Linked DNA regions of Homo sapiens: regions 2 and 3 are each linked to region 1. Evidence: fine-mapped expression QTL. A gene starts in region 1. Each other region holds a variant in brackets. All regions are shown on one strand. Distances are between the middles of the regions.

Region 1 (8,177 bases):
TGGGGCCACAGCAGCCACAGAGGCCACCCACGGCTTCCACTAGGACAGTGTGTCTTTCCAGTTACTCTACGTACCTAAAAGTGACCAGCCCCCTTTCAGGTCTGGTCTATGATCCAGATGGTGATCTTTCCCCCACTTTTTTTTTGAGACGGAGTCTCGCTCTGTCCCCCAGGCTGGAGTGCAGTGGCGCGATCTCGGCTCACTGCAAGCTCCACCTCCCGGGTTCACACCATTCTCCTGCCTCAGCCTCCCAGGTAGCTGGGACTATGGGCGCCCCCCACCACGCACAGCTAATTTTCTGTATTTTTAGTAGAGACGGGGTTTCAACGTCTTAGTCAGGACGGTCTTGATCTCCTGACCTCATGATCCGCCCAACTCGGCCTCCCAAAGTGCTGGGATTACAGGCGTGAGCCACCGCGCCCGGCTGGTCTTTCCCCTTTAAGACCCCACTTCCCACCCCCACCCTGGCCAAGCTGATAGGATTCAAGGAGTGCGGCGGTGCAATCACAGCTCACTATAGCCTTGACCTCCCGGGCTCGAGCAATCCTCCCGTCTCAGCCTCCCAAAGCCACTTCCTCCTTTTCTTAGTTGTTGGCTTCTTCTACAGAAAAGGATCCTGAAAACAAACACCTAAAATGCCAACCAAGAATTCAATCTGCAAGGCAGCAGCACCTCCAGAAATAGCTGCTTTGTGGCCTGTTTGCCATTTATGTGAAACTTCCCCATTTTGGACCAACGCAGGCAGAAAGAGAAAAGGAGGAAGAGGAAGGAAAAGAGGCAGGCTGTGTTGGGGCTGGATGGGGCTGTAGGAACCTGCCAGCAGTGGCTCTTGGGGAAAACCCCACTGCGAGGTTTCTGAACCCCTGCCCCGGAAGCTTCCCCTTTCCCACACACGTCACTCGCTGCCTTGGAATCTGGGCTGCCTCCCTCCCAGGGGCTCACAGGGGAGCGAGGCCACAGAAAGGCTCCTTACCCCCAGTGGCCTAACAGGTGTGACATGTGGAGGGGGAATCTGGGCAGTGTGCCTGATGCTCAGAGCTGAGACCCTGAAGTCCAACTCCCTCGGGTGTGACCTTGGACAAGTTACTTAGCCTCTCCTTGCCTCAGTTACACCATCTGGAGAATGGGGATGCTACCCTCGTCTGACCACCGTGATGTGAGCCAGTCAGCACACATCAAGTGCTCCGTGAGCGTCCGGCACACAGGTGCTTGTCTCTGTCCTGTGCTTCAGCTCCATCAGTGTCTTCTTCAGACCTGTCATTGGCTTGGGGCAAGGATATATGTGGCCGCTGAGGGCGGTCCGCCAGGTATGGCAGCCATGGAGCTGCTAATTAGGCCCTGTGAGTGGGAGGCCCTGTGGGGTGGGCAGGGGCAGACGCCCAGCTGCTCTCGGGGACACTCCAGGCCTGTGCTGCCCTCCACAGCCCCAGCTGGAGAATGGTGACCAGATGTCAACGACAGGAAGCATTTCCAGAGGCCACAGCTCTGCAGGGAGGTCTCTCATGGGCTGACAGCCAGAGCCAGCGCTCCGGGTCCCCTGAAAAAACGGGCACAGTCCTCGGTCACGTCGAGGACCTGCTCAGCCCCTCCACTTGGCACCGGAGAGAGGATGACTCACGGCCCTTCTGCCTGGAAGGCAGGCTCCAGTGTCAAATGTCCATCCGCCTCCATCACCCTCATCCATCCTTGTCAGTCCAGGGGCCTGGGCACTGCTGGGGCTCCTGGGCAGACAGTTCCCCCTTGCAAATGAGTGGGACCCTCAGCTCCTTCGATCAGCATCCTCACGTCAGCCGAGCCTGTGAGCACCCCTAAGCAAGGCCTCTGAGCTGGGCATGCGACACCCCTTCCCACCCAGGCACCCTCCCCCTAGAATCCCCCATACCACCCTGGGGCCATGCCCCGCTTCCCTCTCTGGCAAGCTCCTGCACAACCTTGAGACCACCTGACAGCCACCGTCTATCCTGCCCAACCTCCTCAGAAGCACTAACAGCACCTCGCCCCAGCCACGGCAGGTCTCTGCACCCCTCGTCTCAGTCACCACTCTCACATCTCATGAACAGAGACACGAGCTGCTTCCTCATGCTCCCTGTGCCCGTCCTGGGAGATCCCTGCCTTTAAACCCCAGCCACGAACTGCTGACCCCGCATTTCCTCTTCCCTCCCTGGGCAAGAGGGGCAGAAGGGGCAGGGACGCACACCCTGGGCCGCAGGCAGAGGCTTGGCCAGGGTCGTCCTCCCGGCAGTGCCTCCCTGGAGCTCTGTCTACCTCAACTCCTGATGCCAGAGGATCCCTCTGCGCTCCCCACACCCTTAAGACCCCAGCTCAGGGAATCTGGTCTCGGTCATCACTCCCAGGGGACTGCAGGGCCCCAGGACGGCACACATTCAGGCCCAGGAGAGCTCCCCCCATCTCAAAGCCTCCTGTGGGTGGAGATGGAATGTGGAAAAACCGCATCCTCTGCAGCTCCCCCACAGTGAGAGCGAGGACTGAGGGTGTGGATAAGGCTCCAGGAAGGGGGTGCAAGCCTGAGAAGGTGGAAGAGCTCTGGGTGGGTCCATCTGCTCCTCACCTGCCCCAACCCTGCCTGCAGGTGAAGGCCGGTCCAGCCGCAGAAGGCCCAGCCCCCAGCCCACTTACAGAATCCGCACTGTGCTCCTCCAGCCGGCCCGGCCCCTCGCTGCCCACCGAGCCATCATGACCCCAGCACCGCTGCACATTCGTATTTGTTGAATGAATGAATGAACCCTTGCCAGCCCAGCCACTTGGTGGCTGAGGGCTTCAGAGCTCTCCCAGGGTCCCCTGGGGTCATTCAGCCACTCAACAGTTTCCCAGCAGCAGCAGCGAGGATCCGCACATCATTGCCAGTGCTCTAAGGAGCGGGCGAGCCCCAGTAAGCGGCCGCTCTGACCGCGCTTTGTCAGCCCTGAGCTCCGCTCGGGAGGAGCCGGCAGGTGTCTGCGGTGCTGGAAAGACCACGGTGTGGGCGGGGATTCCGATCCGCCGGCAAGGGTGGCCTGCACCCGGCCAGGCCCGCGGGTTTTCTCCTCTCCGGGGCTGGCCTCGGCCCCTCCCCCTCCCCGCGCCCCGCACCCCTCCCCTGAATCCCCAGGCCACGTGGAGAGGACACAACAAAGCCTTCCCCGCCTCCGAGGCGGACCCGACCCTCAGCACCGACCTGCCGGCCGCGCCGAGGAGGGCGCCCGGGCGGAGGGGAGGCGGGAGAGACCCGGCCCTCAGGTCGCTGCTGAGGCCTGGGGCTCTGACCCCCCGCCTCCCCTCCTCTGGCTCCCACCGCGGTCGGGCCCAGGGCGGGCGGCGGGCCCTGAGCTCCACGCCGGGGCAGGCGGCAGGCAGGGGTCACGGGCTGGGGCTCGGCGCGTACCCCGGGAGGGGCGCGGGTGCACTCACCACCCTCCAGCCGCGGGGGCGCGGGCGCGTCCGGGCCGAGGCAGCGTCTCCCAGGCGCGCGGACACGGTCGACTACCCGCTTCCTCCTTATGGCGCCCCGCGCGCTTCCTCCTTCGGCCCCCCACGCCCGGGCCCGCCCCGGCCCGCCCCGGCCCGCCCCCGGCGGCTTGCGGGGACCCGGGGAGCCCGCGCCGGCGCGGGGCTGTGGAGCGGGGCGGGGAGCCGGCAGCGCAGTGAGAACCAGGCTTTCCACCCTTACCCCTTACGCGACTGTTTCAGACAGTGTCGTCCAACTTTAAGTTGGCCACTTACTCCAGCGCCGCTGGGATAATTCCTAATGATTCTCTGGGAAACATTCAGAATCCCCAGGCTGTTTCTGGAACAGTCTGGGGTGGTCATTCTAGGTCCTCACGGAACCAGGGGTTTGGAAAGTGGGTGAAGCCATGTGGGTTGCAGAGAATCTGGCCCAGCCCCTCACCAGTCCCTGTGCTTGTTGTTTATTCTTTAATTATTTGGATATCAACTCTGATTTAAAACATCAGTTTAACATATAGATAATGCTGGGACTACAGGCGCACACCACACCCAACTAATTTCTTTTTCAGTTTTTAGTGGAGGTGGTGGGGGGGGGGTCTCCACCTCTGGAGGTCTCAGGCTGGTCTCGAACTCCTGGGCTCCAGCGATGCTTCCCACCTCGGCCTCCCAAGGTGCTGGAATGACAGGCCAGTCCATGCATCCCCGGATGCAGCTCTCACCGGCAGTGCTGCTGCAGAGCCCTTTGTGGGCGTCTTCACTTCTCTTGAGTGTGATACCTAGGAGTGGAAATGCGAATCATAGGGCTGGACGAGCTTCATGGTATTAAAAACTGCCTGCTTTCCAAGGTGATGCACACCGTTCGGCACTTCCACCAGCCCTGTTGGAGCGTCCAGTTGCTCTGCGCCCTCGCGTGGGCTCACTCCCTGAGCCCACTGTGGCTCCTCCAGACGCCCTCACTTCTACCCGGGCTCCCTAGACTCTTGCCTCTTTTATAAAAGGTCAGAGGATGTCACTCACGCTTTAACATCCTCTGAATAAAAGCCAAGTTCCTTTCAGTGGCCCGCAGAGTCCCACGCGACCTGCCCTGCTCTAAGCAAATCCTACCCTGTCCCTGTTCCTCCTCGGCAGCCCCATGGCCTCTGGCTTTCACCAGGCCTCACTTCATTTTCCTCCACAGCCAGCATCGCAGCATGACATACCACGGAGTCGTTTGTGTGTGTGTTGCCTACCTCCCCTCTCGGAATGTAGCCTCCACGAGGACAGGGGCTTGTTTCCTGCATGCTCTTCACTCGGGCTGGGCACTCTGGGGGGCTAACAAATGGAAGATCCTGTGAGCAGGGAAACCGTCAGATGGCATTAGGGGCCGGTGCCCTGCAGAAGACGAAAGGGAAACTTCATGGACTGAGGCCAGGTCATCTGCAGGGTGGTGTTCAAATTCATGGTACAATGTCAGCAGGCGCCCAGATGGGAAAAGAGAGGGACGTGCACCTGGGCACAAGAAGCTGCAGGGGCCCCTCCCAGGGCAGGCGAGAGCTTGGACAGTGGGGCACAGTGGGCAAGAGGCCAGTGGGGTGGCCTGAAGGCAGGAGGCTCCAGCAGCCTGGATGAGCAGTTGGATTTTATCCTCAGCACTGTGGGGGCCACTGGCCCTGTCATGCAGGGCAGGACCTGTACCAATTGGCCCCCACAGTCTCTGCCTCTCCTGTTGGCTTTTTGCAGGTCTCTCAAGTGCTTCTTACAGTCAGGGTAGAGCCTCCCCGCCTCAATCCTCCCTGTCCTGATCTGCTGCCTCTATGATGCTTTGGGCTTCAAAATCTGTCTGCAGTATTTGTAAAATGAGAGAGGGTGATGTTTCCTGCAAAACAACCACTTCAAAAAGAAAGGGGGGCGGGGTGCCAGAAAACAATTCAGGGGGTGACGGACTGGGGGGCTATGGAAGGGTCCAGGGAAATTCCGGGGATGATGGGATTCTTCTATACAGGGATTGTGGTGGATGCCACACAATTGTACACTTTTGTGAGAACTCTGCACGAAGAATGGTGAGTTTTACTGTATGTAAAATTATACCTTAATTAACAAATGAAACAATATACACATACATGAGAGAATGATGACTTTATTTTTTTTTTTGAAACAGGATCTAGCTCTGTCACCCATGCTGGAGTGCAGTGGTGTGATCACAGCTCACTGCAGCCTTGACCTCCCAGGCTCGAGTGATCCTCCTGCCTCAGCCTCCCAAGTATCTGGGACTGCAGGCATGCACCGCCACGCCTGGCTAATTTTTTAAAAATTTTTTTTAGACGGAGTCTGGCTGTGTCACCCATGCTGGAGTGCAATGGTGTGATTTCCGCTCACTGCAACTTCTGCCTCCCGGGTTCAAGTGATTCTCCAGCCTCAGCCTCCCAAGTAGCTGGGATTACAGGCACCCACCACCATGATTGGCTGGCTAATTTTTGTATTTTTAGTAGAGACGGGGTTTCACCATATTGGCCAGGCTGTTCTCGAACTCCTGACCTCAGGTGATCTGCCCGCCTCAGACTCCCAGAGTGCTGGGATTACAGGCGTGTGCCACCACACCTGGCCTTTTTTTTTTTTTTTTTTTTTTTTTTTTGGGACAGGGTCTTGCTATGTTCCCCAGGCTGGTCTTGAACTCCTGGGCTCAAGTAATCCTCCCACCTCGGCCTCCCAAAGTGCTGGGGTTACAGGCATGAACCACTGCACCCGACCTGAATGATGTTTTTGGCAATGAAAATGAAACACAAAATCCAGCAAGGTTTGACGGGGAAGGCGAGCTGGCGACCACATAGTCACAGTCGGCCTTTGCTTCCGCTTTATGCTGCAGTTTCTCACTGTCACTTCCTGCCACCGGGCTCGTCTTCCTGTGAAAATTCAGCCCCTCTTCCTCAGTTACCCCTTTGCAACAGAACGAGGCCGGCATTTTCTAAAGCGTCCTTGAGGAGTCCAGTTCCTAAAAGATTATTTCAGAGTCCACTGTTGTGGGCTGACTTGAATGCTCTCAAAATTCGTAAGTTGAAGCCCTGACCCCCAGGACCTCAGAACGTGACTGTGCTTGGACACAGGGACTTTCCAGAGGTGATTAAGGTGAAGTGAGGTCACTGGATGGCCCTCCTCCTATCTGACTGGTGTCCTGATGGGGACGCGGACACCCACACAGGAACGGACCCGGGGAGAACAACACATCGTCTCTGCGCCAGGGAGAGAGGCGTCCGGGGAACCCAGCCGTGCCCACGCATTTATCTCCGCCTTCCGGCTCAGAATTGTGAGGAAACCCGCTTCTGTTGTGCAAGTCCCGGGTCTGTGGTGCTCGGCCATGGCGCCCCCAGAACTGCATCCCCACCTTCTGCTCTGAGCCACCCATCCCCTCTGGAAGGGCTGAGCTTCTCTCCCTTTCCACCTTCTGTTCTGAGCCACCCGTCCCCTCCAGAAGGGCTGAGCTTCTCTCTCTTTCACTGCCTATGCTCTGGGAAACTTTCAGAATCCCCAGGCTGTTTCTGGAATAGTCTGGGATGGTCATTTTCGGTCCTCACAGAACCGGGGGTTTGGAAAGTAGGTGAAGCCATATGGGTTGCAGAGAATCTGGCCCAGCCCCTCACTAGTCCCTGTGCTTGTTAGTTATTCTTTAATTACTTGGATATCAACTCTGATTTAAAACATCAATTTAACATACAGATAATGCTGGGACTGCAGCTTCGCCAGGTGGCCTTCCTCTCCCGGTCTCGGGAGGCGTCACCCCCATCTTGTCCCCCCAAGATCAAGCGAAAAGGGCAAAGTTATCTTTTTTTTTTGCAAAATTCAAACCTTTCCCTCCTTCCCAGGTCTGGGTCACTTGCGACCCTCCTCTCAGGCTGCTTCTGACAGGCCCAAGTCACAGCCAACTTCAGGGGAGCTGTGTTGGATCCCTCCAAACTCCGGGAATGATGTGACCTCCCCGGCGCTCACCCTGGGCCTCTAGGTTAGACTCAGCCCAGACCCTGGCTCACAGGGAAGCAGAGCCCATGGCTGGCCTCCACCCGCTCAGACGCCCGCACACAGGCCAGGGGAGGGCTTGGGGGCAGCTCTGGGAGGGTCCCTGTTTGCGCTGTGGGTGTCCAAGGCTGGGTGTGCAGAGCTGAGGTTGCCACACACCTGAGGGACTCTCGCATAAGGATGGCGCAGGGCTGGAAGCTGGACTGAGACAGTGAATGAGACAGCGCTGCCGGCTCTCTCCGCGCCGTGGACTGGCTCCTAGGCAGTCTCACGAGCAAGTGTGCTGTTGCTCGTGCACGTGTGTTTTAACTGAGATGTGAGCTGGCGCGTTTTCTCCACCCGGCTCCATCTGCTGGGTCCCTCCACATTGCTGCGCGTGTGCCTCCAGTGCCATGGGGTCCCCACTGTGGGCAGCCCTGCATTTTGCCCAACTGCCTCCCAAACCATGGAACCCCAGTGACCTCCAACTTGCCGCCATGACGAGCCACTCTCATTCATATCCTCAAACACGGTGCTCTGAGCCCGAATGAGGGTTTCTTTAGAGAGATATCTGGGGACCAAACTGTAGGGACAGAGCTCCCGTCTAAGGTGGGCCTGTGGTGAGGTCTCCCCAGTGGTACACTTTAATCCCACAGCAGGGCTTGCAGGCCGCCCTGCTCCATCCCCACCAACACTGGGCAGGATCTAGCCTCCAAACCTTTGCCAGTCTAATAGTATAAAATGATAGCTCGGTGCTATTTTGGTTT
Region 2 (8,177 bases), 41 kb before region 1:
ACCTGGAGACATGGCTTTGACCCACAGCTACTGTTCATTTCCTCAGGCTTTGCGCTGATTCCCTCAATAATATGACAGTAAGGCAAGTAGTCTCCTTGCCTTTCTCCTGAAAGGTATGAGATGTGGACATTTCAGTGTTTGAATTATTTTAAGAGATGTTTTATAGAAATAAAACGTTTTGTAGCTAAGAATTTTCCCTTTCTCTTAATTTCTTACATCTTTCCACACAAACTTATCTTTCCAAGAATTTGAGGTGGTGATCATACCCATCAAGACGGCCTTGTAGGCTATCTGATTGCTAACAGACACGACCTAGAGCTTCTGCCCAAATTCCCACACAAGCATTATCTCGTTTAACATCTCAGCGACATACTGGATACCAGAATAATGTTTCCTCTTCTCTGGTGCACCAAAACCTGCCCTTAGTGATAATCTCTCAATTATGACATTCATTTGAGTTTAGGGTGTATAATTTTTCCTAAAAAAAATTCATGTCGATAATTATATTTTAGCAAATACTAGTTGAGCATTTATAACATGCCAGAGACGGTTCTAGTGCTCTCACATACCTTATTTCACCTTCACAGTTCTAATAGCTGTTTGTATTCCTTTTATTCCCATATTACAGAATGAAGAACCTAATCAGAGTTTGTTAGTTTTTCTTTTTCCTTTTTTTTTTTTTTTTTTTTTTTTGAGACAGAGCCTTGCTCTGTCGCCCAGGCTGGAGTGCAGTGGCACAATCTCGGCTCACTGCAAGCTCCGCTTCCCGGGCTCACGCCATTCTCCTGCCTCAGCCTCCCAAGTAGCTGGGACTACAGGCGCCCGCCACCATACCCGGCTGCTTTTTTTGTATTTTTAGTAGAGACAGGGTCTCTACTATGTTAGCCAGGATGGGCTCGATCTCCTGACCTCGTGATCCACCCGCCTTGGCCTCCCAAAGTGCTGGGATTACAGGCGTGAGCCACCGTGCCCGGCCCAGAGTTAGTTTTTCTAACGTCCTCAAGCATAGGCGAGGCAAGGCAATGATTTTGCCGGTTTTTATCATTTTCCTGGCACTGCAAAGCAGTATTGGCAGGTCCCCTGCAAACAGTTGCGCCAGTTGTTTACTGCATAAGGACTGACTGGGGACAAATTCCGACGTGCAGCCTGTGCTCTGCTCACCATGCTGTGGGCTCTGGGAGAAGCGAAGTATTTTTCTAATTTGTACAAAGGCACCATATAGGCTCACTTAAACATTAAGCATGTTCTACTACAAAAAAACAAGAGTGAGGGTTAGGTCCAGGACTGGTCTCAGCTTCCAATTATGTAGCTGTTTTCCCTGTAGACATTGAGTGAGATGCTTTGTGGTTACAGAATTCACAGTCATTGCCGATGAGCTTTCATTAGCTTTCTTGATTAAATATTTTTGCTTGTAGACAAGGTTAGGCAATCTGTCCCAGCAGTTATCACAAAGTGCTAAATGAGGGGGGTGAAGACAGCACCACGATGCATTTCTTGGTCTTTTTCTGTTTGTTCGAGTTCGTCCCTTCTCCCCTGTGTATGCCATCATAAGGGTGGGGCTGTGGAGTGAAGTAGGGGAATACCTGGAAGCATTGCTTGGCCTCTGGACAGACAAAGAGGTTGGGGACTTAGGAGGGTTGACCAGGTATGGCCACAAGTACGTCAGCTCCTGGAGGATCTTCCCAGTGAAAAGCCTCCTACTACATTCCACAGCACTTCATGGTAATTATAACCTTGGCTAGATAATACCTGCTGTATGGTACAGAATAGTGACATTCAATTACCTCATATATAAAGAGAGCTCCATGGAGAGCTGGAAAGTGCATGCCACTACAATATTAACACATCCCATCTTCCCTTTCTTTTTGCAAGGCTGTTGAATTTCAGCCCGGCATCCCCACACACTAACACCATCAGGTCTTCCACATTTGATGGTTACACCACAGGAGCCCACACCAGACTGCTGCTTCCCTGTGAGCTCAGAGTGAAATTGTTCTCAGGGGTATTTGCAAGGCCTTGTCATCAGTTAAAGACTAGCAGCTGACTCCAGGTGATTCTACCCCGCTGTCACCTCTCCAAAGGGGAAATTGAATAGTGGTATTGCTCACTGTGGTGAGTGTTCTTTGCACCACCAGAAGAAACTGGTTAATGAATGTACTATTTAGAAGAAAAGTTTTGACATTTAAAGATTACTAGTTGTTCCCTTTCCCCAGGAAAAGAAGGTCAAAGTACAGTCTTCCCTGTTGCAGAGTTTGGAATAACTCTGTTTGCCCTGATGCTTTCCAGCAGGAGAACTGTATTATGTAGAGGGGTCCTTGGCCAGCATCAAAGGAAAAAAATTATTTTTTTCCTAGACCTGTATTTTTCCTATTACAGTCTTCCATTTATTTCTTCCTCCAGATTAAAAGTGCCTCTTCCTACCTCATTCCTTAATTAAGGTCAATTTAGTGTTGGCTCAAATGCTTTCATCTCAAAAATACCGGAATTGAATGGTAATTTGGATAATTAAGTTATCGTGCATTTTAAGCAGCATGTGTTTCCTTTTTCCGTGTGAGTTCCATGAGCCTCTGCACTGCCGCTCTGCACTGCTGAACTGATCACTGTGGGTCATTCTGGCTCCTCTTCCTTCCTGTCATCTACCTTTTGGCCAATCTACTCTTCATCAGGGGAAAGGAACAAACTTCAAATCTGTGAGTTATTCTTTCTGTCAGAAGCAACGTGCTAGAGAGAATACATGGGATTTGAAGATAATCAGTGGACTCATCTTTCTATCCACATGGTAACTATGCCCTTGACAGGTGGTATCATTTCACATCATCAATTGTCTTTGTTAAGTCCATACTTAATTGGTTTGACTCCAGGTTTTGAAAACAAGATCGTAACATTCAAAGGACTCTATATTCCAATTCTCAGCTAGCACAACTAATAAAGTTGCTGGACAGTAAAACTAGGCGCCAGTGCTGTGATCCTTTAAGGAAGCCTTGAGTATCGCAGCAGTTAATGCTGGGTCCTAAGAGGAGAGGTCAGGAATGATTTGACCTTCTGAATGCACCAAATGTCCCACGTGACTTTCAGATACACCAAGCATCTTTTCAAGGAGAAAGCTTTTGATGTTTAACAAAAGAATTTCCATCACTTAATTCAAATATTTTTAAAACAGAAAGGAAAACACATTCTCTGAATTAAAGTCACCTTTGAATCATATCCACAAGGATTGTGTTACAGGGCAAAATCCACCAACTGCCAGGATATGCCCGAGTCACCATGGCTGGGAAGTGCTCAAGACTGGAACATTTGTGTTTGAGACAATGGAATCTTTTTATAATGTTGGCTTTGGGAGAAGGGGTGACGGTCTTGCTTTACAACCAAGACTATCTCAGACTTGGTCTGGAAGAATTTACACTAAGACCTGTTATAAAATGGTGGCCTACTGTATGAATTCAAGTGAAACAGAAGCAGGTGAAGATGCTGTGGAAGAGTCAGTGTGTGAGAGAGGTGGTCCAGAGTCACTTGCTGCTTAAGAACACTTTCCCATTAGTTCCGGGTGATGACTGCATACAGCTCCTTTGGGAAGAAAATGCCTCCCCCAGTGAGAATCTGATTATAATGGCTGACGTATGGATGGATGTGTAGGCGCAGTGTGGTTCAACCTGTTTCCATTGTGGTTGGAAAACTTTTTTAAAAGTCCACTCCAAAACATGAAAAGTCGTAGTGTTAGGAAGATTTATTTCCAAACAGTGGCCTCCACACTGCGCGGCAGCACTTCTTTTTAGTATTTGTAAGCTTTTGCCCACTTTCAATTGAGCCAGCCCTAGCGTGGTATGTATTGCATGCTGAACAATATAGAGTTTGTTTTTCCTTTCTGATGATTTTAAACTCTTAAAGAACAGGAAAGCATCTGGTAAGAAGAAATCATGAGTCCGTCAGTGCCCTTACTCATATGCGTCTCCAGTGGCCTCATGTTGTGGTCACAGGAGTTTCCTGTTCACAGCAATGTGTGTGATATGGACCCAGCATCCACTGTCGTGCTTTTAAACTGATTCCTGGGACATAGCTTACCACTGGAACAGCAGACCAGTGTTGCACTGTTTCTAAAGCTAAGCTTTTCCTTATTTATTTTGGTACTACCTAAGTGACTTGGTTTTGACTGTCCCTAAGAGAGGGAACCACTTTGCTGAATTTTTAAAAAGTCCAACTGCTCTTTCATCTTTTATGCTTAGAAACCTGTTCTCTCCAGATGCACTTCTGAGGCATGGATGAGCTGAGCGTATGGCTAGAAATTGGAAGTTTACAGCTATTACCAGGGGGCTAACTCCCGGGGCATCGCAGTAGCTTCTGGCACCCGTGGCTTCATGTCTTTAGCAAAGTCTTGATGTCATGGAAAGAGAAAAAGTGTATGCAGTTAGTTACCTGATTTTGTAAACAAACAGTGGCTGACCTGGGCCCTTAAATCACCTTCACACCTTTTAGAACCACAAGTGGTTCTTTTTGACTCCAACAAAGGAAACGAAGTTGAAAAAGTCAAGCCCCTGTGTACTGGGGCCGGACTTCCCATCATTTGAGTGCAGCACTTTAGTTCAGAATCTCTGTGCCATGTGGTTTTTTAAACAGGAAGATTGTTGGTTCCTTAGTATTAAGATAGATAGTCCCTATTTTGAGTGGAATTTTTCATTTGTAAGGGGTATGTTCCTTCTCTGATTCTTGCTTTCCTCAAACAGGATACTGCCTGCTGTAAGACCATCCTCTATGGTTGTACTTTAATAAACAGTAATTTTTTTTTACCAAAAAAATTGTATTTTGTTTCTACTTCCTTGAAACCTGCTTTCCAATTTAATTTTTAAGTGGGAACCTGCACAGTGGAAATAAAGGCACCGTGTGTAGATTTACAGATGTGCAGATTCATGTGTGGATGATATGAAGGCCATTCAAATACGTGTAAATGGACATTTTCATTCAAGTATATTAATGTAGATATTTTAAAGTGGGTTATAAGTTTA[A/T]CATTGTCTTTAAAATAGAAGTCACAGCTATCTTCCAGCCTGTCTTCTCTAGGAACGCTGTTGACATGCCAGGGCTCCGTCTACACTGGAAGCAGCTATACAGCTGTGACCACATCGAGCTTTAGCCAGTCACACTTCTGGAACTGTCCGTTCAGTCCATCCCCTAGAGCAAGAAAGGAGAAAAAGCCAGAATCAGCTAGGCTCATTCACAAACCAGGCTCCAGAGCTCTGTGCCACAGTAGAGCAAAGCTGGGGTTTATGCAAAAACATGTTCTCCAGACCCCTGAAGTCCTATCCGTGCATCCTACTTTTTGCTACATGGGGGCAACTGCAAAAACAGGCCGTTCAGGCGGTGAGGTGGGTATTCACATCTCCAAGGCACTGACGGTGTCAGGAGGCCCCTGCTGGGTCAGAGGAATCACGATTCTGCCTCAGCCCTCAGTCTCTGGTAAGCTGTCCATACAGACTGCTGCACACGTCTTGCCCACCCTTTCCCCCTTTACATGGGTGTTGGTAAAAGCTGTCCAGGAATGGTCTCAGGCTTACCTCCTTCCAACAATTCAGCTGGGTTTAATGCCTGATTTAAGATTTATATTCATTCTCCTGTTTTTAAAATGCTTGTATAACTGAAGACCACAGCATATAAGGAATGTTTTCTTATGAGTTCTCAGTAGAGGATTAGATGCTATTTTACTTAAAAACCAAAGCCTGAAGTAATGCTTCTGACATGTCATAAAATCCCAAACATTAGGCCGGGCGCAGTGGCTCACGCCTGTAATCCCAGCACTTTGGGAGGCCGAGGTGGGCGGATCACCTGAGGTTGGGAGTTCGAGACCAGCCTAACATGGGAGAAACCTCATCTCTACTAAAAATACAAAATTAGCCGGTCATGGTGGTGTGTGCCTGTAATCCCAGCTTCTTGGGGGGCTGAGGCAGGAGAATCGCTTGAACCTGGGAGGCAGAGGTTGTGGTGAGCTGAGATCGTGCCATTGCACTCCAGCCTGGGCAACAAGAGCAAAATTCTGTCTCAAAAAAAAAAAAAAAAAAAATTCCCAAACATTCGCTAATATTTTTAAATTTACAAATAAGACACATCCACTTAATTTCCATTTGGGTCTATGAAACAGAAGCACCAGATTTTGCTACATGGGGGCAGCTGCAAAAACTGGCCCTTCTTGGGCAGCATTGTGAACACTGTATGTTTGTTTTTAGAGACAGGTCTTGTTTTTGTTCAGGCTGGAGTGCAGTGGCACAATCAGCTCACTGCAGCCTTGAACTCCTGGGCTCAAGCAAAGAGATCCTTCTGCCCCAGCCTCCTGAGGAGCTGCCTCAACCTCCATGACGGCGTGAACTACAGGCGTACGCCACCATGCTCAGCTAATTTTTTTTTTTTTTGAGACAGTCTTACCCCATCATCCAGGCTGGAGTGCAGTGGCGTGATTGCGGCTCACTGCAACCTCTGCCACCAGGGTTCAAGCGATTCTCCTGCCTTAGCCTCCTGAGTAGCTGGGATTACAGGCGCCCGCCACCACACCCAGCTAATTTTTTTTGTATTTTTAGTAGAAACGGGGTTTCACCATCTTGGCCAGGCTGGTCTTGAACTCCTGACTTCATGATCCGCCTGCCTTGGCCTCCCAAAGTGCTGGGATTACAGGCGTGAGCCACCGCGCCTGGCCCTCAGCTAATTATTTTTATAAATTTTTTAGAGACAGGGTCTCGCCATGTTGCTCAGTTTTGTCTCAAACTCCTGGCCTCAAGCAATCCCACTGCTTCTGCTTCCCAAATCGCTGGGATTACAGGCTTGAGCCACCATGCCCAGCCTTTAGACTGTGACTTGTAATACCTGGTTATGGGACAGATGTGCTCTGGAAAAGATTTCAGACAGTTCCCCCCCTTTTTTGACTACTCGTTTTGGTTCACATTACACCTTTTTTTTGAGATGGAGTCTTGCTCTGTCGCCCAGGCTAAAGTGCAGTGGTGCGATCTCAGTTCACTGCAACCTCTGCCTCCAGGGTTCAAGCAGTTCTCCTGCCTCAGCCTCCTGAGTAGCTGGGACTACAGGTGTGCGCCACCATGCCCGGCTAATTTTTGTATTTTAGTAGAGACGGGCTTTCACCCTGTTGGCCAGGGTGGTCTGGAACTCCTGACCTCAGGTGATCCACCTGCCTTGGCCTCCCAGAGCAGTGGGATCACAGGCATGAGCCACCGCACTGGCCACATTACACTTATTTTTTATGGCAAGGTGAGAGGTCTGAAAAGCTCATTGTGAGCCCTCCAGCCCCTTCCTTCCACTCTGTACCTGCTTGTGCCTTGAGGACCCCACCAGGAGTGTGACGTGAGCCTTTGCCACCCCTCTGAATGGAGCATGTCTCCAATAGTAAGCTGCTAAAGCTCCAAAGGACTCTGGGTGCTCTTCGTCACCTTTACACACAGCTTTCTAGCTCACAACAGCAAAACCAAACCCGAGCAGGACAGCCTGTAACCCTTGTGCTGGCATCAGAGGCAGGGGCCCCGCTGGGCTTCTCAACCTTCCAGAGAAAAGGGCATGGGCGGCAGGCAGGGAAGGAGCTGACCTCAAGGGTTCTTACATTTCTGGCTAAGCTCCTCACGTAGGTGCGTAGGTTCTGGTTAATAAAATTCACTGTTGTGTGAAAGACATCACGGAGCAAGGACGGCGTGTGACTGGCCACCTTCTTGGCCAGCAGCAGGGCCAGCACCAGCATGGTCTTCTCCTTCTCCATGTCTCTAGGGTAGGCCTGCAGCAGCTGCTCCAGGGCAGTGGCCAGGTCCCTGTTCCGGTCCTGCACAGAGGGGCACACAGAACCTGGTTTACTAATACTCTTCCCTCTCAAAGGAAAGACAGTCCCCAGTATGAAGAAGCACTTCAAAGTACTTATTAAGTATCCAGGGCTGCTGGGCGGAAAGAATGAGAAACAGTTGAGTTCTGAGAGGCAATGGAAAGGGAAGACTGCAATCACTCCCTGCAGGGGGCTCGGTAAGCAAACGCATGTGTGGTGAGCCCATGTGCCCACTGTTAGACGGTGATGGGATACAAGAAGCCTGGGTCATCCCTGCGCCCAAGGCACTTCGAGTCCAGAACTAGTGACCACCTGCGACGCCTTAGGCCCATTTTATTGGTGCAGACCTAGCTGAATGGACAGGAGGAAGGGGGTTCCTGGG
Region 3 (8,177 bases), 480 kb before region 1:
AGAATTTGGCTGTGAATCCATCTGGTCCTGGACTTTATTTTGGTTGGTAGGCTATGAATTATTGCCTCAATTTCAGAGCCTGTTATTCGTCTATTCAGGGATTCAACCTCTTCCTGGTTTAGTCTTGGGTGGGTATATGTGTCCAGGAATTTATCCATTTCTTCTAAATTTTCTAGTTTATTTGCATAGAGGTGTTTATAGTATTCTCTGATGGTAATTTGTATTCCTGCGGGATTGGTGGTGATATCCCCTTTATCGTTTTTTATTGTGTCTATTTGATTCTTCTCTCTTTTCTTCTTTATTAGTCTTGCTAGTGGTATATCAATTTTGTTGATCTTTTGAAAAAACCAGCTCCTGGATTCATTGATTTTTTTGAAGGGTTTTTTGTGTCTCTATCTCCTTCAGTTCTGCTCTGATCTTAGTTATTTCTTGCCTTCTGCTAGCTTTTGAATTTGTTTGCTCTTGCTTCTCTAGTTCTTTTAATTGTGATGTTAAGGTGTCGATTTTAGATCTTTCCTGCTTTCTCTTGTGGGCACTTAGTGCTATAAATTTCCCTCTACACACTGCTTTAAATGTGTCCCAGAGATTCTGGTACGTTGTGTCTTTGTTCTCATTGGTTTCAAAGAACATCTTTTCTTTTTTTTTTTTTTGAGACAGATTCTTGCTCTGTTGCCCAGGCTGGAGTGCAATGCTGTGATCTTGGCTCACTGAAACCTCCGCCTCCCAAGTTCAAGTGATTCTCCTGCCTCAGCCTCCCGAGTAGCTGGGATTACAGGCACCCACCACTATGCCCGGCTAATTTTTTTTGTATTTTTAGTAGAGACGGGGGTCTCACCATGTTGGCCAGGCTGGTCTTGAACTCCTGACCTCAGGTGATCTGCCCGTCTTAGCCTCCCAAAGTGCTGGGATTACAGGCATGAGCCACCACCCCCAGCCTCAAAGAACATCTTTATTTCTGCCTTCATTTCGTTATTTACCCAGTAGTCATTCAGGAGCAGGTTGTTCAGTTTCCATGTAGTTGTGCAGTTTTGAGTGATTTTCTTAATCCTGAGTTCTAATTTGATTGCACTGTAGTCTGAGAGACAGGTTGTTGTGATTTCTGTCCTTTTACATTTGCTGAGGAGTGCTTTACTTCCAATTATGTGGTCAGTTTTAGAATAAGTGCAATGTGGTGCTGAGAAGAATGTATATTCTGTTGATGTGGAGAGTTCTGTAGATGTCTGTTAGGTCTGCTTGGTGCAGAGCTGAATTCAAGTCCTGGATATCCTTGTTAACCTTCTGTCTTGTTGATCTGTCTAATATTGACAGTGGGGTGTTAAAGTCTCCCATTATTATTGTGTGGGATTCTAAGTCTCTTTGTAGGTCTCTAAGGACTTGCTTTATGAATCTGGGTGCTCCTGTATTAGGTGCATATATATTTAGGATAGTTAGCTCTTCTCATTGAATTGATCCCTTTACCATTGTGTAATGGCCTTCTTTGTCTCTTTTGATCTTTGTTGGTTTAAATTCTGTTTTATCAAAGACTGGGATTGCAACCCCTGCTTTTTTATGTTTTCCATTTGCTTGGTAGATCTTCCTCCATCCCTTTATTTTGGGCCTATGTGTGTCTCTGCGTGTGAGATGGGTCTCCTGAATACAGCATACTGATGAGTTTTGACTCTTTGTCCAATTTGCCAGTCTGTGTCTTTTAATTGGGGCATTTAGCTCATTTACATTTAAGGTTAATATTGTTGTGTGTGAATTTGATCCTGTCATTATGATGTCAGCTGGTTATTTTTCCTGTTAGTTGATACAGTTTCTTCCTAGCATCGATGATCTTTACAATTTGGCATCTTTTTGCAGTGGCTGGTACCAGTCATTCCTTTCCATGTTTAGTGCTTCCTTCAGGAGCTGTTGTAAGGCAGGTCTGGTGGTGACAAATATCAGCATTTGCTTGTCTGTAAAGGATTTTATTTCTCCTTCACTTATGAAGCTTAGTTTGGCTGGATATGAAATTCTGGGTTGAAAATTCTTTTCATTAAGAATGTTGAATATTGGCCCCCACCCTCTTCTGGCTTGTAGAGTTTCTGCTGAGACATCCGCCGTTAGTCTGATGGGCTTCCCTTTGTGGGTAACCTGGCCTTTCTCTCTGGCTGCCTTTAACACTTTTTCCTTCATTTCAACCTTGGTGAATCTGACAATTATGGGTCTTGTGGTTGCTCTTCTCGCGGAGTATCTTTGTGGCATTCTCTGTATTTCCTGAATTTGAATGTTGGCCTGCCTTGCTAGGTTGGCGAAGTTCTCCTGGATAATATCCTGAAGAGCTTTTTCCAACTTGGTTCCATTCTCCCCGTCACTTTCAGGTACACCAATCAAACATAGATTTGGTCTTTTCACGTAGTCCCATATTTCTTGGAGGCTTTGTTCTTTCCTTTTTATTCTTTTTTCTCTAAACTTCTCTTCTCACTTTATTTCATTAATTTGATCTTCAGTCACTGATCCCCTTTCTTCCAGTTGATCGAATCAGCTACTGAAGCTTGTGCATGTGTCACGTAGTACTCGTGCCATGGTTTTCAGCTCCATCATGTCATTTAAGGTCTTCTCTATACTGTTTATTCTAGTTAGCCATTCATCTAATCTTTTTCCAAGGTTTTTAGCTTCCTTGTGATGGGTTCAAACATCCTCCTTTAGCCTGGAGAATTTTATTACCGACCTTCTGAAGCCTACTTCTCTCAACTCATCAAAGTCATTCTCCATCCAGCTTTGTTCCATTGCTGACTAGGAGCTGCGATCCTTTGGAGGAGAAGAGGCGCTCTGGTTTTTAGAATTTTCAGCTTTTCTGCTCTGGTTTCTCCCCATCTTTGTGGTTTTATCTACCTTTGGTCTTTGATGATGGTGACCTAGAGATGAGGTTTCGGTGCGGATGTCCTTTTTGTTGATTTTGATGCTATTCCTTTCTGTTTGTGAGTTTTCCTTCTAACAGTCAGGTCCCTCAGCTGCAGGTCTGTTGGAGTTTTCTGGAGGTGCACTCCAGACCATGTTTGCCAGGGTATTACCAGTGGAGGCTGCAGAACAGCAAATATTGCAGAACAGCAAATATTGCTGCCTGATCCTTCCTCTGTAAGCTTTGTCCCAGAGGGGCACCCGGCTGTATGAGGTGTCAGTTGGCCCCTACTGGGAGGTGTCTCCCAGTTAGGCTACATGAGGGTCAGGGACCCACTTGAAGAGGAAGTCTGTCTGTTCTCAGAGCTCAAACACTGTGCTGGGAGAACCACTACTCTCTTCAGAGCTGTCAGACAGGGATGTTTAAGTCTACAGAGGTTTCTGCTGCTGGCTTTTGTTCAGCTGTGCCCTGCCCCCAGAGGTGGAGTCTACAGAGGCAGGCAGGCCTTGTTGAGCTATGGTGCGCTCCATCCAGTTCGAGCTTCCCCTCTGCTTTGTTTACCTACTCAAGCCTCTGCAAGGGCAGACGCCCTTCCCCCAGCCAGGCTGCCGCCTCCCAGTTTGATCTCAGACTGCTGCGCTAGCAGTGAGCAAAGCTCTGTGGGTGTGGGACCCACTGAGCCAGGCGTAGGATATAATCTCCTGGTGTGCTGTTTGCTAAGACCCTTGGAAAA[G/A]GGCAGTGTTAGGGTGGGAGTGTCCCGATTTTCCAGGTACAGTCTGTCATGGCTTCCCTTGGCTAGGAAAGGGAAATCCCCTGATCCCTTGCACTTCCTGGGTGAGGCGATGCCCCACCCTGCTTTGGCTCACCCTCCATGGGCTGCACCCACTGTCCAACCAGTCCCAATGAGATGAATAGGTACCTCAGTTGGAAATGCAGAAATCACCTGTCTTCTGTGTCAATCACGCTGGGAGCTGCAGACTGGAGCTGTTCCTATTCGGCCATCTTGGATCCGGACCATCACCACAAAAACTTTTTTAAGTCCATCAAGGAAACAGAAGTGATCTGTTGTTCCAGATTTGGGATAATAAAAGAACACGGGCTCTGACTTGGATCATGCTGTCCTCCTGTCCCGGCTCTGCTCCCCGCTTGCCTGTCACCCTCCTGGACCTCAGTGTCTTCAGCTGTCAGACAGCAGTAATGTCTCTTAGCATTATAGGCATTATTAGATAAAGGCAACATAAGTAAGACACCTAGCATGGTGTTCATGCTTAACAAATGCTTCTTGCTCTTGTCACCCCACACCTTTTGTTGGTTAAAACATGAAATCCACATATTTTACTTTACCCAACTTGATTTAAAGGTATAAAAGACAAAATGAATGTCGAAAATGAAATCAGGCTGGGTATGGTGGCTCGCACCTGTAATCCCAGCATGTTGGGAGGCCTTGGCGGGAGGATGGCTTGAGGCCAGGAGTTTGAGACCAGCCAGGGCAACAAAGTGAGACCTCATCTTTACAAAAAATAAAAATAAAAATAGCTGGGCATGATGATGCACACCTGTAGTCCCAGCTACTTGAGAGGCTGAGGTGGGAGGGTCGCATGAGCCCAGGAAATTGAGGTTGCACTGAGCCAAGATCGCACCACTGCACTGCAGCCTAGGTGACAGAGCAAGACCCTGTCTGAAACAAAGTGTAGCATTTGACCCTTGCTGTTTTACTAGAGGGACTGTTTGATAATAAAATATTGCTGGGGTGTGGAGTTCCTATGTGATATGGGAAGTTTCTATGTGATATGAGAAGACCCTCCCTAAATCTGGGCAGCCCTGTAAAACCCCTTGTACTCTATAGCTTCATACCAAACACATTTGCATTACAGAGTTCTCTAGCATTTCTACAATAGAAATTTGGAACAGGAATGGTGGAAATAGAAACATAATTAATGGAGGCAGAAAATCCATAAACAATTATGTCTCTGCAATAAACACCAATAGCGAGAAGCAACCAGACCAGTATGGGCTGTGGCTGTATCAAAACGACTGTACTGGGCCAGAGACCTAGCCCTAGTCATCCCTGGTTAAGGTAATTAATCTTCCAGTGAGAAGATAACATTATCTCTACATTGTGTTTATGACTTTATATTATTTTCAATTCGGTTTATTTTCCCAAAACAGTGACTTTGGTTAATTTCATTTAGGGATTCAAGGTATTCTTCTGTTTGCTTTCTAAAGTTCTGAATTAAAAGAACCCTACCAAAATAGTTAAGGAGGGAACTGTGTTTCTCAACAAGACTGAAAGCTCTTGTTTGTTGTAGCGTCAGAGGCCAGGGCTATGCCTGAAGGTAAGCACTCTCTTTGCTGGGAACGATTGATTGGCTTGAAAGAGATGGACCCAGACAGAGGTGTGGCAATGACCTTGTGCCCAGAGCAAGCAGACATGTGACCTGCCCCCTATAGGATAGTGCCTGAGAGGATCTTTCCTTGTTTGGTTGGTTGATTGGTTGTTTTTTTTTTTTGAGAGACAGGGTCTCACTCTGTTGCCCAGGCTGGAGTGCAGTGGTGCAATGACAGCTCACTGCAGCCTCAAACTCCTTGGCTCAAGCCATCTTCCCACCTCAGCCTCCTGAGTAGCTGGGACCACTGGCATTCACCACCTCCCCCAGCTAAGTTATATATTTTTTGTAGAGTTGAGGGCTCTCTATGTTGCCCAGGCTGGCCTGAAACTCCTGGCCTCAAGCGATCATTCTGCCCCATCCTTCCCAAGCACTGTGGTTACAAGCATGAACCACCGTGCCTGGACGTCCCTGTTTGGGGTACTGCTCCTTACAGCAGGAGCTAGCCAGAGCAGGGAAGAAGGGTAGAGAAAAAAACTGGAGAAGAATGAGAAAAGAATATCCAATAGTCCCGTTCCTGGCCCAGCCTAGCCTACCAGATTGTTGCCCAAACAACTCCTCCTCTAAACGCCCCTCCTCCTGGCTCATTCCTGTTCTGCCACCTCTACACCCCAATAAACCTTTCTCTTCCCAGGGTTCTGCTCTTTGTGTAGCAATTTGCTAAACAAGTATTTTGCTAATGGGCAAACAGGAGAATGCTAGACTGGATACTCTTGGGCTCTTGGTAACAATTTCATATTTAGTAGTGGTTTCTGGGTAGACAATGGCTTTGCTCATCAGAATTGTAAAAGGCCTGGAAACCTAGGAATGATCTTTTTTTTTTTTTTTTTGAGATGGAGTCTCATTCTGTCACCCAGGCTGGAGTGCAGTGGCTCAATCTCAGTTCACCGCAAACTTTGCCACCTGGGTTCAAGCAATTCTCCTGCCCCACCCTCCCGAGTAGCTGGGATTACAGGCATGCACCACCGCATCTGGCTAATTTTTATAGTTTTAGTAGAGACAGAGTTTCACCATCTGGGCCGGCTGATCTTGAACTGCTGACCTTGTGATCCACCCACCTTGGGCTCCCAAAGTGCTGGGATTACAGGCATGAGCCACCGCACGTGGCCAGAATGATCATCTTTATCATGAAAATGAGTTATCTGCAGTTCTGCCCAAAGATGACCAGGGTGGTCTTATAGACTGAAGTGGGCTTCTCCAGCCCACAAATTCAAATGTTGAAGCCCTGGCCCTCAATGTGACTGCATTTGGAGAAGGGACTTTTAAGGAGATGATTAAAATGAAACGAAGTCAGCCGGGCGAGGTGGCTCACGCCTATAATCCCAGCACTTTGGGAGGCTGAGGTGGGTGGATCACCTGAGGTCAGGAATTTGAGACCAGCGTGGCCAACATGGGGAAACCCCGTCTCTACTAAAAATACAAAAATTAGCCAGGCATGGTGGTGGGTGCCTGTAATCATAACTACTCGGGAGGCTGAGGCAGAAGAATCACTTGAATCTGGGAGGTGGGAGCTGCAGTGAGCCAAGATCATGTCATTGTACTCCAGCCTAGGGACAAGAGCAAAACTCCATCTCCAAAAAAAAAAAAAAAAAAAAAAAGGATTAAATGAGGTTCTAAGGATGGAGCCCTAATCTAATACAATGGGTGTCTTTGTAAGAAGAAGAGAAGAGACAGCAGGAGTGCACACAAAGAGGAAAGGCCATGTGAGGACACAGCCAGAGGCGGCCTTCTGCACACCAAGGAGAGAGGCCTCAGGAGAAACCAACCTTGCCAACATCTTGATCTTGGACTTCCAGCCTCCAGAACTTTGAGCAAATACATTTCTGTTGTTTAAGCCCCCAGGTCTGTGGTATTTTATGATAGCAGCCCCAGTTGATTAGTACCGATAGTCAATGGCTACAGGGGACGATTCTGTCAGTACACTAAGCTGTGGGCAATGGTGCCACAGAACACATGGGGGCACCTTTAGAGAGCTTCAAATTCATGCCAAGATTTGCAGGGAACATTGTTTTCATGTTGGGACAAATACAGATAATTTATGGGATACAATGCACAATTCACTTGACTTTTTTTTTTTTTTGAGATGGAATTTCCCTCTTATTGCCCAGGCTGGAGTGCAATGGCATGATCTTGGCTCACCACAACCTCTGCCTCCCAGGTTCAAGTGATTCTCCTGCCTCAGCCTCCTGAGTAGCTGTGATTACAGGCATGCGCCACAACGCCCGGCTAATTTTGTATTTTTAGTAGAGATGGGGTTTCTCCATGTTGGTCAGGCTGGTCTTGAACTCCCGGCCTCAGGTGATCCACCCGCCTTGGCCTCCCAAAGTGCTGGGATTAGAGGCGTGAGCCACCACACGCGGCCCGCTTGACTTTTTAAGCAAAGAATAATATGACAAAGACACGCCTCCCGCAGCAGTATTCTCCATCGTATCAGTTTGTGTTCAGCCAGGAAAATCGGCACTCCAGTGCAGCAAGCTGGTTCCACAGGTGCTGAGGGACTTACAGCGCAGGAAGCCGTTGCTACTCCTAGGGTTAGGAAGACACAGTAGGAGATGACGTTGCCGGGCTCCTGAAGACAGGGTTCCGTGTTAGTGGGTGGAGGTGATGAGGGAAGCTGGGACCAGGAAGGGAGATGATGTCCAACTAGAGATGGAACTGTGCAGGAGACACTGCCTTTGCACGACATGGGGCCCTTGCAGGAGGAGGAACACCCTGCCTTCCTCCTGGCTCCCACACTCCAGTCTTCTGCAGTGCCCCCAACAGCCAGAAAGCATGGGAGATGGGGAAATGTGGTTCCCGACCAAACAGGCTGGAGCAGAGCATGGGGTAGTGAGGACAAGTGGGCCCGCAGGCTGCAGGTGGGTACATTGTGGTGAGAATGGAACCACAGGAAGCATCGGCGTAAGGGACTTTCCTAGTGCTGACGC

What was found. PIP is the estimated chance that this variant, and not a neighbour inherited with it, causes the effect.
Region 2: its variant is fine-mapped to the expression of BID in whole blood (TOPMed, PIP above 0.99).
Region 3: its variant is fine-mapped to the expression of BID in caudate (GTEx, PIP 0.96).

The regions. Positions count from the first base shown.
Region 1 is chr22:17,770,973-17,779,149 of GRCh38, forward strand. It overlaps BID (BH3 interacting domain death agonist), which reads right to left and starts at 3,497. Exons shown (of 6, transcript NM_001196.4): 1 at 3,409-3,497. It overlaps LINC00528 (long intergenic non-protein coding RNA 528), which reads left to right and starts at 6,318. Exons shown (of 1, transcript NR_103718.1): 1 at 6,318-8,177. RefSeq lists enhancers at 826-965, 6,353-6,832 and silencers at 3,006-3,335, 3,366-3,435, 3,456-3,505, 3,526-3,625.
Region 2 is chr22:17,730,432-17,738,608 of GRCh38, forward strand. It overlaps BCL2L13 (BCL2 like 13), which reads left to right. Exons shown (of 7, transcript NM_015367.4): 7 at 1-424. It overlaps BID (BH3 interacting domain death agonist), which reads right to left. Exons shown (of 6, transcript NM_001196.4): 5 at 7,586-7,798; 6 at 3,707-5,160. The coding sequence ends at 5,149. Among named protein-coding and RNA genes, the nearest start is that of MIR3198-1, 30 kb to the right of the region's middle. The variant A/T (reference allele first, on the strand shown) is at 4,998.
Region 3 is chr22:17,295,899-17,304,075 of GRCh38, forward strand. No RefSeq gene overlaps it. Among named protein-coding and RNA genes, the nearest start is that of CECR3, 33 kb to the left of the region's middle. RefSeq lists enhancers at 7,868-7,987, 8,058-8,177. The variant G/A (reference allele first, on the strand shown) is at 3,597.